Linked DNA regions of Homo sapiens. The protein of the gene in region 1 purifies or fractionates together with the protein of each later gene. This does not show direct contact. Each region holds a gene or a part of one and is shown in the gene's direction. Other genes may lie near its edges.

What was found. The genes of interacting proteins can lie anywhere in the genome.
Region 2: the proteins of OPRK1 (region 1) and DOK4 purify together in Homo sapiens (affinity purification with western blotting, with the first as the bait; one study listed by BioGRID). This does not show direct contact.
Region 3: the proteins of OPRK1 (region 1) and GJA4 purify together in Homo sapiens (affinity purification with western blotting; one study listed by BioGRID and IntAct). This does not show direct contact.

What each region holds. Positions count from the first base shown.
Region 1 is NC_000008.11:53,231,138-53,234,637, reverse strand, and holds part of OPRK1 (kappa-type opioid receptor), read left to right. Parts: intron 1-3,500. UniProt on the Homo sapiens protein: G-protein coupled opioid receptor that functions as a receptor for endogenous alpha-neoendorphins and dynorphins, but has low affinity for beta-endorphins.
Region 2 is NC_000016.10:57,476,494-57,479,993, reverse strand, and holds part of DOK4 (docking protein 4), read left to right. Parts: intron 1-236; exon of another isoform or gene 237-305; 5' UTR 306-486; coding exon 487-552; intron 553-3,500. UniProt on the Homo sapiens protein: DOK proteins are enzymatically inert adaptor or scaffolding proteins. They provide a docking platform for the assembly of multimolecular signaling complexes.
Region 3 is NC_000001.11:34,791,864-34,795,798, forward strand, and holds GJA4 (gap junction alpha-4 protein), read left to right. Parts: upstream 1-1,135; 5' UTR 1,136-1,205; exon of another isoform or gene 1,206-1,483; intron 1,484-2,238; exon of another isoform or gene 2,239-2,333; 5' UTR 2,334-2,350; coding exon 2,351-3,352; 3' UTR 3,353-3,884; downstream 3,885-3,935. UniProt on the Homo sapiens protein: One gap junction consists of a cluster of closely packed pairs of transmembrane channels, the connexons, through which materials of low MW diffuse from one cell to a neighboring cell.

The sequences.
Region 1 (3,500 bases):
AGTGCCTAAATCCATGGAAGATGAGAAGTAGAACAATTTTGTGTCCCTTTCCACCTCTAAACACAGAATGCAATAATGACATTGCCAGAAGAGAGATGCCCGACCTGTCTCCCATTCTGGCAATGTTTAGTAGAAAGTGGAGGGGTGAGGATGAGGTAAGAAACCACAGGCATGTGGAATTTTAAAGTACAACCTGGCAAGTCCAGGACACACCTTCTCACTCCTTTTTTTCTCTTTAACAAGGGATATAAATTATTGGTGACATATGCTGGTTCTTTCCTCTTTTATTCCTAAAGGATAACCTCCAAATCACTATTTTAACAGCTTTGGCTGTAGGCCATTCAAAATCAAGTTAACGGATGGTAGTTACAGATGAGCAGAACCACTTGATTTTGGACATATCAGGTTTTACCCCATGCAAACCAGCCAACTGATTTTTTTTTTTTTTTTTTTTTGAGAGAGAGTCTTGCTCTGTTGCCAGGCTAGAGTGCAGTGGCGCGATATCGGCTCACTGCAACCTCTGCCTCCCGGGTTCAACCTCAGCCTCTCGAGTAGCTGGGACTACTGGCACACACCACCATGCCCAGCTAATTTTTGTATTTTTAGTAGAGACAGGGTTTCACCGTGTTGGCCAGGGTGGTCTCAATCTCTTGACCTCGTGATCTGCCCGCCTCGGCCTCCCAAAGTGCTGGGATTACAGGCGTGAGCCACTGCGCCCGGCCCCCTGTTGATGTTTTTCCTGTATTTCTAGGACAGTAGTTCTCACTCTGGGCTGCACATTGGAATCACCTGGGTACTTTAGAAAACACTGCTGCCTGCATCCCACCCCTTAAGGGTCTGGTGTAATTGACCTGGGGTACAGCCTGGGTGTCAAGATTTTTGAGCTCTCTCCAGGTGACTCTGACCTGCAGCCAAGGTGAGAGGTACTGTTCTAGGAGTTTTGCTTTACTAGCAAAATATAAAGCTATAGAAAGCATCTTTGTTCCTCATAGAAATTAATGATGGGGAGGTGAGCAGAATAGTCACTCTGGGCCTACTCATGCTGTTTAATGCTCCAGCAGGTATATAAATGCTCCAGTTTACTAGGGGGTTCATAATACCTGTGAGAGCAGATAACTGAGTGTATATAGTGAGGATTTTCCAGGTCATAGTGAAAGGGCAAGGCACTAAAATCATAGCTTGTCTTGCATGATACATGGTTTGTTTGTTTTTAGACTTAATCTAGTTAGGTTTCAGTTTACAGTTTTAGGTTCACAGCAAAACTGACCAGAAAGCACAGAGAGGCACTTCCATTTACCTCCATTTACCCCACACAGGCACATCCTCCCCTACAGAGTGGTCCATTTATTACAGCTGCTGAACCCACACTGACACGTCGTTATCACTCAGAGCCTGGAGTTTACAGGAGGGCTCACTCTCCGGGTTATGTGTCCTGTGGATTTGAACAAATGTATAATGACTTTATTCATTGTTTTTTAATGAAGCTGATCTTTTCCCTCTGAAACTACAAAATGAATTTCTAGCATAGCCATAGCAGGTGTCAAGCTATACTACTAGGTAAATTTTAAGAAATGCCCAACTTTATCATATTTGCATTTCAAAATATGATTAATCACACATAGGATTTTGTTTCTTCATGCCTACAGCAAATAGAAATAAAGTGCAAGAAACTTTTCTGAGGCAAAGCTTTCACTTTGTGAACGTAAAATGTTGACTCTAATATTTTCCATACTGTAGTATATGTGTGTGTATTATGTGAGGATTCATAGTCTGCTCTTACTTTTTTATAGTAGCTAAGAATTATTATAATCGCTATAAGCAGAAACAATTATTCTTAACAAAATGAATACACACAAGAAAAGCTTTAGTTTAGCTATTAGAACTAACTCTATAATTATGACAACCATGAGATGCTGGAACAGGAGCCAGCAGAAGCCACAGCCCTCTGATATTAATATATAAAGAAACCAAAATCTGCTTGTTAAACTGAGGCAGTTGTATGGATACTTCAACCTGAAAATGCCCCCTTCTTCCTGAAACAGAACATTTAATAAAAATGGCATGCTTGGACAGGAATTTCTTTTTTAAAAAATGCTTAGTTTTTATGAATTCATAATAGATGTACATATTTAGGGGGTACCAGTGCTATTTTGATACAAGCATACAATGTGTAATGATCAAATTAGGGTAATTGGGATATTCATCACCTCAAGTATTTCTCATTTGTTTGTGTTAGGAACATTCCAATTTCACTCTTTTAGTTATTTTGAAATATATAATAAATTATTGTTAACTGTAGTCACCTTCTTGTGCTACTGAACATGATCCTTTTTCTTCTAAGCGTATTTCGTATGCATTAACCAACCCCTGTATATCCCCCTCCCCACAACCCTTCCCAGCCTCTGGTCACCTCTAGAGGTTCTACTCTCTATCTCTGTAAGTTCAGGTTTTTTTTTTTAACCTCCCAAATATGATGCTTGAGGACATGTGATATTTGTCTTTCTGTGCCTGGCTTGATCCCCTTAGCATAATGTGAAGTGCACTGGGATTCTTGATGATTGCCTCAGCACTCTCTTTACGCTACAAATTCAGCTTCATTGACATTTCTGGAGGATATTTCCAACTCTGTAGTGGGACGTTTGTTTCCCAAAGTCTTGTAAAGTAGCTGTTGTTAATTATTTCACCCAGTCATCTAATACTTACCATCTCCCACCACATGCAAGGCAGTTTGTTTGGGAGGAAGCTGAGCCTCGGAGTTAAAGGTCTATCCGAATTAAACAGCAGCCCTGTGCGGCTTCTGCTTAGCTTAGCTTAGCCGGTGACTTTTCCATAATAACTACTGTAATTAGGACACACTTTCGAGGGTTTGTTATTCATGTGGTATGTATTTGTTTGTTCATTTATTTAACAATTTATTCTGTTTATGCACCACATGTTCCAGGTACTACCCTAGGTGCCAGGGATTCAGTGTTGATTAAGGCAGGCTGGGTTTCTCCACTAAGGCAGTTCACATTCTGGATGGAGAGAAAAATGTTAGGAAGGTAACACACAATTACAGATCAGACAGGCTTCTGTCTGGGAAATTGGGTGAATATAACATGTAGACAAAGTGTAAGTTACCGAGGAGAGGACAATTTAAGAGACAGACCTCCATCTAAACGTCTCTGAAGTGACATATAAGCTGAGGTCAGCCACAGGAAACAACTAATGCTGAAAATAAAAGCTAAGCAGAAAAAAACAAACCAAACCATGGTCCCTACCTCCAAGGAAACTCTTCTACCAGATTCAACAAACAAGTCAAAACCCAGAATAGAATATTTATATTGAACTCAGATTTTTTTTTCATGTGTCACCCATCAAAAGTTGCTTAATGGATATCTTATATTCTATTATAATAGTAATGATTTAAAAATCATTTACCATAAACACTAAAGCAAAAGTTAATAGTCTTCATAGTAATATTACTTTGGACAATGACTTTTTTAAAAAATCAAAAATGA
Region 2 (3,500 bases), on another chromosome or scaffold:
GGTCCCCACCTCCACAGTAGGAGCCAGAGCCAGTCCTCCCAGGAAGGGGTTAACTGCCAGCCCCAGCCGTGAGGGAGGGGACTGGGCTGGACCATTTTCCTCACTGCCGCCTCCACCTCGGTTTTCCTGAATGGTTCTGTCGTCCTGGGGTGGGGAGGGAAGGGAAGGAAGAAGGGCGGGAGGAAGGAGGGAGGGAAGAGGGAGAGAGGAGGAGTGTGGGAAGAGGAAGGAAAAAAGAGAGCGAGACAGCGAGAGGAAGAGAAAGATGTCACTGTCTCTAATCTCCCTGTCATTTTTATTTCCAGCAGGCGCGGGGCGAAGGAGCTGCTAGAACAATGCTGAGGCGGGTGAGGTGAGGAGCAGCCCCTCGCGGCAGCCCCGACAGAGTGTCTGGAACAGGTGATTGGAGGAGCCGGAGACCCAGGCACCTGGGCATCCTTCCCCTCGCCTCTGCCAGGCCCCGCGCCCCTAAAAGGTGGGAAAACCATGGCGACCAATTTCAGTGACATCGTCAAGCAAGGCTACGTGAAGATGAAGAGCAGGAAGCTCGGGGTGAGTGACCCTGAGCTGCGGAGGGGCCCTGCCAAGGGATGGGGGCCCGAGGACTCGGTCCCAGGCTTGGAGGCATGGCGCGTGGGGCACGCGGCTGCCCTCCGGCTGCCGGGCATCGTGCATCTGTGGTCTCGGGGCTCCTCGCCAGCGTGCTGCCTGGCATGTGCCTGGGCTGGGTTCTGCCTGCTGCAGCCCCCGCCCCAGAGGGCTGGCTGGCATCCCAACAGCTGGGCCAGTGGTGGTGGTAGTGGCAGCAATGGTGGCCACCGATGGGCAGGCGGCTCCCCTGCTATTGTTGAAGTTGTCACCACAGCAGCAGCAGGGGCGGCTGGCAAGGCCGGGCTGTGTCTGAGCTGAGAAGCAGCGTCTCACTTCCCCTGGCCTCCTCTCCCTTCCGTTTGCCCCCCACCCCCGGCCTCCCCTCACCTCTCCTGGCCTCTTTTCTTTTAGGTCATCCTCTCCCCTTGCTTCTGACTGCTTTCCGTGTGCAGATATTTAGTAAATTTTTGGTTGTCGAGTTTAATGTTAAAGAAGTGTTTGAAAAGGGGAGTGGTTGGCTGGGCGAGACGGGGTGGTGTGAGGCACTGAAGCTGATATTTATGTGGTTTCCAAATGAGAACTTTGGGCAGAATGGTCCAGTGCTCTGGGACAGGCTGCTTCCCTCCAAGTTGTTGGTGGGTGACTCTGTGCTTGCTTGGTGCTTGGCCCTGAACTGGGGGCTTGGAGGGGCTACAGAGAAGAGGTCTTACTGGGCATGCATCCTGTCCTACCCTCTGTAGACCCCCAACTGGTGAAGACCCCCTAGAAGACAGGAGCAGAGGGGATCAACTTCATGATCTCGGCGAGGCTGTCTGAGAGCTGCCTCTATTCCTCTGCCAGGCCCCCCTGCCAAAGACAGGTCTGGCAGTTGCCCCTTCCCCTGTAGGAAGGACAGCCCTGGTGACTGAGGTCACCCAAGTCTTGTGTTTGACCCAGGACTCCTGTCCCCTTCTCCCTTCTCTCTCCCATTGCCTTGAAGGGGGCGGGTCGGCTCAGGCTGCTCAAGGATCCCTGGCTCAGCCTGAGTGGGGTTGGGGGGCATGCGGAGTGGGAGAGGGATCTGCCACCCAGCTTCCCTACCTGGGTACCAGACAGAGCAGGGCTGGTCTTGGAGAAGGTGGTTCTGGCCCCACTTCCCCTCCTGTGCCTCCCTGCCCTGGGGCTCAACCTAGTTGAGACTGGGCCCTGGCAGCCATCGGCTACTTTGCTCTTCCTCTGAAAGGGGGATCAGCCCACTGACTTGGAGCACAGAACAAAGAGAGAAGCTGAGGCTGAGGTAGGGAGGCCAAGGAAGCAGAGGCTTCGCTTCTAACATCACTTCTCATTCCTATGGCCCCAGACTTAGCAGGTCCCCAGGGGCCAGCTGGGCTGAGGCCTTGCCCAGGGCAGAGTGTGCCAGGAAGGCACCAGCCACAAGGGCAGCCACTTGGGCTCAGTATCAAACCTGTTCCAGAGGGAGACTGAGTGGCTGACAGGTGGGCACAGCCTGGATGGGGAGGTGGGGCATAGCCAGGCCCTATCCATGCAGGGAATTCTCTTCCCTCTGAAGCCAGGAGCCTCACTTCCCCTGGTGTGAGAGGCTGTGGTCCCTCCCCAGCAGCCATTCTCATCTCAGCCCACAGAGGTGAGGGGGGAGGGGCTGAAAGAGATCAGGAGCCGGCTCTCCTACCTGCCAGGGCCTTTCTCCCGCGGCAGAGCTGTGGCAGAGTGTTTCTGAAGCACTGATCAAAGCCCTGTGCGAAGTGGGAAGGAGGGCTCTTGAGCGCGTGGCTCCCTGGGGCTGTGAATGTGTATCCTGTAACCAGGCAACCGGCATGCTCAGGCCCCCAGGCCTTCTGCCCCTGATGCTGCGGGCTGCATGGAGCCCACCCTGGCAGGGTGTATCTGGGTCGGCAGCATCCATCCATTCATCCATCCATTCATTCACGGTTCCTTCATATGGTCATTCACTTGTTTAGCATGGCTGTTAATGAGGCTACCAGGATATGAGTGAGGATTCTGTGGATAAAATTCAGTGTCTGTCTTAAGGGAGCGCTGCAGCTGAGAGCTGAGGGCTGCTGTGGTTTAGGTGGGTAGGACAGGGGCCAAGCCAGGGTCAGGGGTGCAGGAGCAGACATGCCTCCTAGGGTCCCAGATAGGAGCCAGAAATGGCCTGGCTCTGAGTGGTATCTTGAAATGGGGGCTGCCTAGGGCCACTGCACCCTGGGACCCTGCCTGCCAAGGACCTAGTGTACGCATGGCACAGTAGGGCCGAGGAGGGGTGGGGCCTAGAGGCCCCCTGGCCTCCTCTGCTGTGCTCTCGGCCACCACTCAGTCTCCCTACTGTTTCCAGTAAGAGGAACACCAGAGATGCCTGGGGAACAGGCTCTGTCGGGCTTTTGGAATGCCCGCTGGAAGGAGTAGGTAAACCCCAGCCACAGACTTTGGGCAGAAAAAAGTCTAGGCAGGAGGGAGGGGTCATGCAAGGGCAGCTCTGGCTGGTGGCTGGGGCCAACTCCCTCTCCACCACCCATGAATGATAGGCCAGTCTGTCCCTTCAATCCTAGAGTGGTCACTCCCCTCTGCTCCCCACCCCCTTGGGGGAGTCCCTGAAGCTACAGAGAATGTAGGTAGTTTAAGGTACAGGGGCATCAGCAGTGGCCAGGGCCAGGAGGGAAGGCACCATGCTGTGGGAGGAGCCTCAGATTCCTAGCTCCACCCCTTTACCTCAAACAGCTTTGGGTTCCCAGCTGGAGCAGGGCCCCTTACATTTCAGGGTTGGTAAGAGAATGAAAAGAGAGGGTGAGTGAAAGCCCCAGGAGACAAGAGTGGGGGTTACCTTTGTAAAGACCCTCACCTGACTCAGAGAACTAGGGGCACGGGGATGTACAGGTGGGCAGGGGGAAGGGTCTAATCCCTATCCCCAGGAG
Region 3 (3,935 bases), on another chromosome or scaffold:
CTCAGCACTCCGAGGGCAGTGGCCACAGTCTCAGAACCCCACAGCTCCAGGCCCTCGAGCCACACTCATGCCGCCCCTCTACCTAGAATGCTCTTCCCTTCCACTTGGCTAATGGAGGGGGAAAAGCATTTCCTCTCCTCCAGGAAATGTTCCTAACCAAGTCCCCTGGGAATCACCCAGTACCTCTCAGGAGAACTTTCCACATTTATTATCTTACCGTTATCCAAGGGCTGATATGCTCAATCCCTGCACCAGCCAGTGAGGGAGGAGGCCAGAGACCAAGTTTGGCTGGTTCCTCAGGGTATCCCCAGGTCCCCAAGCAGCGTCTGCAGCACAGCAGATGCTCACTGATGCTCATCCACCTGTGATGCCTGAATGCATGAAGGCAGGCTCCGCATAGCCCTTTCATTCCTATGGATGTCCCCCACACCACCCAGCCACCATTTAGAGGCATAAGAACGGGGTCCAAGCTAAAGGTCAGGTGGTTCCCCCACCCCCAGTCTCAAGGAGTCCATGGGAATTGCTTAATGGCCTCTGATTGTGTAGCCTGCCCAGACATGGGGATGTTTGAGAATTCTGGAAGAACGTGGGCTGGGCGTGGATAGAGACGCCTGCTCCACCATGTATGCTGGAGGTGTGGATTACAACCCCTGTCCCCCATTGGAGCTTCCCGCGCCGTAATTAGCCTTGATCGCCTCATCCTGGCACACTAGGGCCAGCCACCTAGCAAATGAGTGGTCCCCACACTCCATCCCCATCCGCCCACCCCTCACAGCCCCGCAGGCCAGTTGCCCAGATCCACAGCCCTTACTGCAACCCCTTCAAATCCAGCCACCCTGAGAGATCCTGGCCTGGGAGAACTCTCCTTCCCTGGCCAAAGAAACGACAGGAGAGTTTACTGTCTGGAATACCTGGTGGAGAGAGAACAGAGGAGAGGAAGGGTAGGTCAGCCCCTCTTGCCCCTCCCCACCGCAAATCACACAGGCCCACCTCCCCGGAGTGGGTTTAGGGAGTCTGCACCTCCCAGTCCCCGCCCCCGCCCTCTCTCCAGCGCCCGCCGCCCTCCCCGTCGCGTTTCCTGCCCCCACCCCGCCCCTCTGCGCTATTTAAGGCGCCCCCGCCGCTCGTGCGGTCCAGCAGGGCTCCCGCGGGCGTCACTCCGGCCATCGTCCCCACCTCCACCTGGGCCGCCCGGCAGGCAGGCGGTGAGTCGGGGGCTAGGAAGGGACCAGGGGCGCCACCTGCTCGCGGGAGGCCGGGAGGAGTCTTGGGTCCTCCGATGCCGGGACGGGGGTTGCTGCGGAACGCCCGCCGCGACAGAGCCGCGCTCACCCAGGTGGCCTTGGCCAGGCTCCCACCCTCTTTCCATGGAATCCTTGTAACAACCCGAGGCGGGAGGAATACTATTGTTTCCACTCTATCGTGGAGGAGACTGAGGGGCCCAGAGGTTGTTCCTTATCCAAGGGGCCGCAGTTACTAAAAGGCAAGATTTGAACCCAGGGCCGCTTCCAGAGCCTGGCTCTAAACAGCTTTGCACTTGGGAAGAGGCACCTCCCCCTTGGGAACTTTGTGGCCTGTGCCTCACCCTGCAATGACAATTCCTTTCAAGAGTCTAGAATTTGCCAGCATCAGCTTTGGAGGTGGAAGGGGGTGGGAGTGGAGGTGGAGGAAGAAGACAGGACCAAATGTCCCTCCTCAAGTGGCAGGTGGTCATTATTGCTGACCGGTGGAGCTAAAGGATGATGCTGCCTTCAGCTCCTAAAACCCCTTCCACTACCCAGCCCCTGCAGGCTCAAAGATTAGAGTGAAGCCAGCTGGGTAAGATATGAGGCGGGGAGCAGGGACCTGAGGCTTTGAGCCCCCTAAGAAGCAGAAGATAACACCTCTACCATCATCACTAGCTCCCACTGTCTGGGGGTAGCCAGCCTTGGGCAAAAGGGAGGAAGGGCTTAGCCCAGCTGCACAACTTTGGATAAGTTCCTCAAATTCTGTTCCCATAGGCAAAGGAGCCTCAACTCCACCCAGATTTCCTTGGCCTGTGTCCATCCTGGGGCAGTGGCTCGGGGACAAGAGGGACATAGATGTCTGATTAGGCAGGGACCTTAGCCAAAGCAGAATGAGACCATACAAAGAGGTGGGCAGCCATCATCCAAAAATCTGGGTTGGGTCCTGCCTGCACTGCTGAGTGGGAGCCTCCAGGCCAGTCCTTCCCCTTCCTGAGCCTGGGTTTCTTTGTAGGTAGAACGGGCGTGGCAGACCTCCCTGCAGGCTTGTTGCTGGGCGAACGAGAAGGATGCCATGCTGACACACTGACGTGCTCTGTCTCCTTGCAGACGGAGGCCCGGGAGCCATGGGTGACTGGGGCTTCCTGGAGAAGTTGCTGGACCAGGTCCAGGAGCACTCGACCGTGGTGGGTAAGATCTGGCTGACGGTGCTCTTCATCTTCCGCATCCTCATCCTGGGCCTGGCCGGCGAGTCAGTGTGGGGTGACGAGCAATCAGATTTCGAGTGTAACACGGCCCAGCCAGGCTGCACCAACGTCTGCTATGACCAGGCCTTCCCCATCTCCCACATCCGCTACTGGGTGCTGCAGTTCCTCTTCGTCAGCACACCCACCCTGGTCTACCTGGGCCATGTCATTTACCTGTCTCGGCGAGAAGAGCGGCTGCGGCAGAAGGAGGGGGAGCTGCGGGCACTGCCGGCCAAGGACCCACAGGTGGAGCGGGCGCTGGCGGCCGTAGAGCGTCAGATGGCCAAGATCTCGGTGGCAGAAGATGGTCGCCTGCGCATCCGCGGAGCACTGATGGGCACCTATGTCGCCAGTGTGCTCTGCAAGAGTGTGCTAGAGGCAGGCTTCCTCTATGGCCAGTGGCGCCTGTACGGCTGGACCATGGAGCCCGTGTTTGTGTGCCAGCGAGCACCCTGCCCCTACCTCGTGGACTGCTTTGTCTCTCGCCCCACGGAGAAGACCATCTTCATCATCTTCATGTTGGTGGTTGGACTCATCTCCCTGGTGCTTAACCTGCTGGAGTTGGTGCACCTGCTGTGTCGCTGCCTCAGCCGGGGGATGAGGGCACGGCAAGGCCAAGACGCACCCCCGACCCAGGGCACCTCCTCAGACCCTTACACGGACCAGGTCTTCTTCTACCTCCCCGTGGGCCAGGGGCCCTCATCCCCACCATGCCCCACCTACAATGGGCTCTCATCCAGTGAGCAGAACTGGGCCAACCTGACCACAGAGGAGAGGCTGGCGTCTTCCAGGCCCCCTCTCTTCCTGGACCCACCCCCTCAGAATGGCCAAAAACCCCCAAGTCGTCCCAGCAGCTCTGCTTCTAAGAAGCAGTATGTATAGAGGCCTGTGGCTTATGTCACCCAACAGAGGGGTCCTGAGAAGTCTGGCTGCCTGGGATGCCCCCTGCCCCCTCCTGGAAGGCTCTGCAGAGATGACTGGGCTGGGGAAGCAGGTGCTTGCTGGCCATGGAGCCTCATTGCAAGTTGTTCTTGAACACCTGAGGCCTTCCTGGTGCCCACCAGGCACTACGGCTTCCTCTCCAGAATGTGGCTTTGCCTGAGCACAGACAGAGTCAGCATGGAATGCTCTTGGCCAAGGGTACTGGGGGCCCTCTGGCCTTTTGCAGCTGATCCAGAGGAACCCAGAGCCAACTTACCCCAACCTCACCCTATGGAACAGTCACCTGTGCGCAGGTTGTCCTCAAACCCTCTCCTCACAGGAAAAGGCGGATTGAGGCTGCTGGGTCAGCCTTGATCGCACAGACAGAGCTTGTGCCGGATTTGGCCCTGTCAAGGGGACTGGTGCCTTGTTTTCATCACTCCTTCCTAGTTCTACTGTTCAAGCTTCTGAAATAAACAGGACTTGATCACAAGTAGGTGTGTATTGATGCTATCATGATGTGCTGGGGGTTGGGGGATAGAGT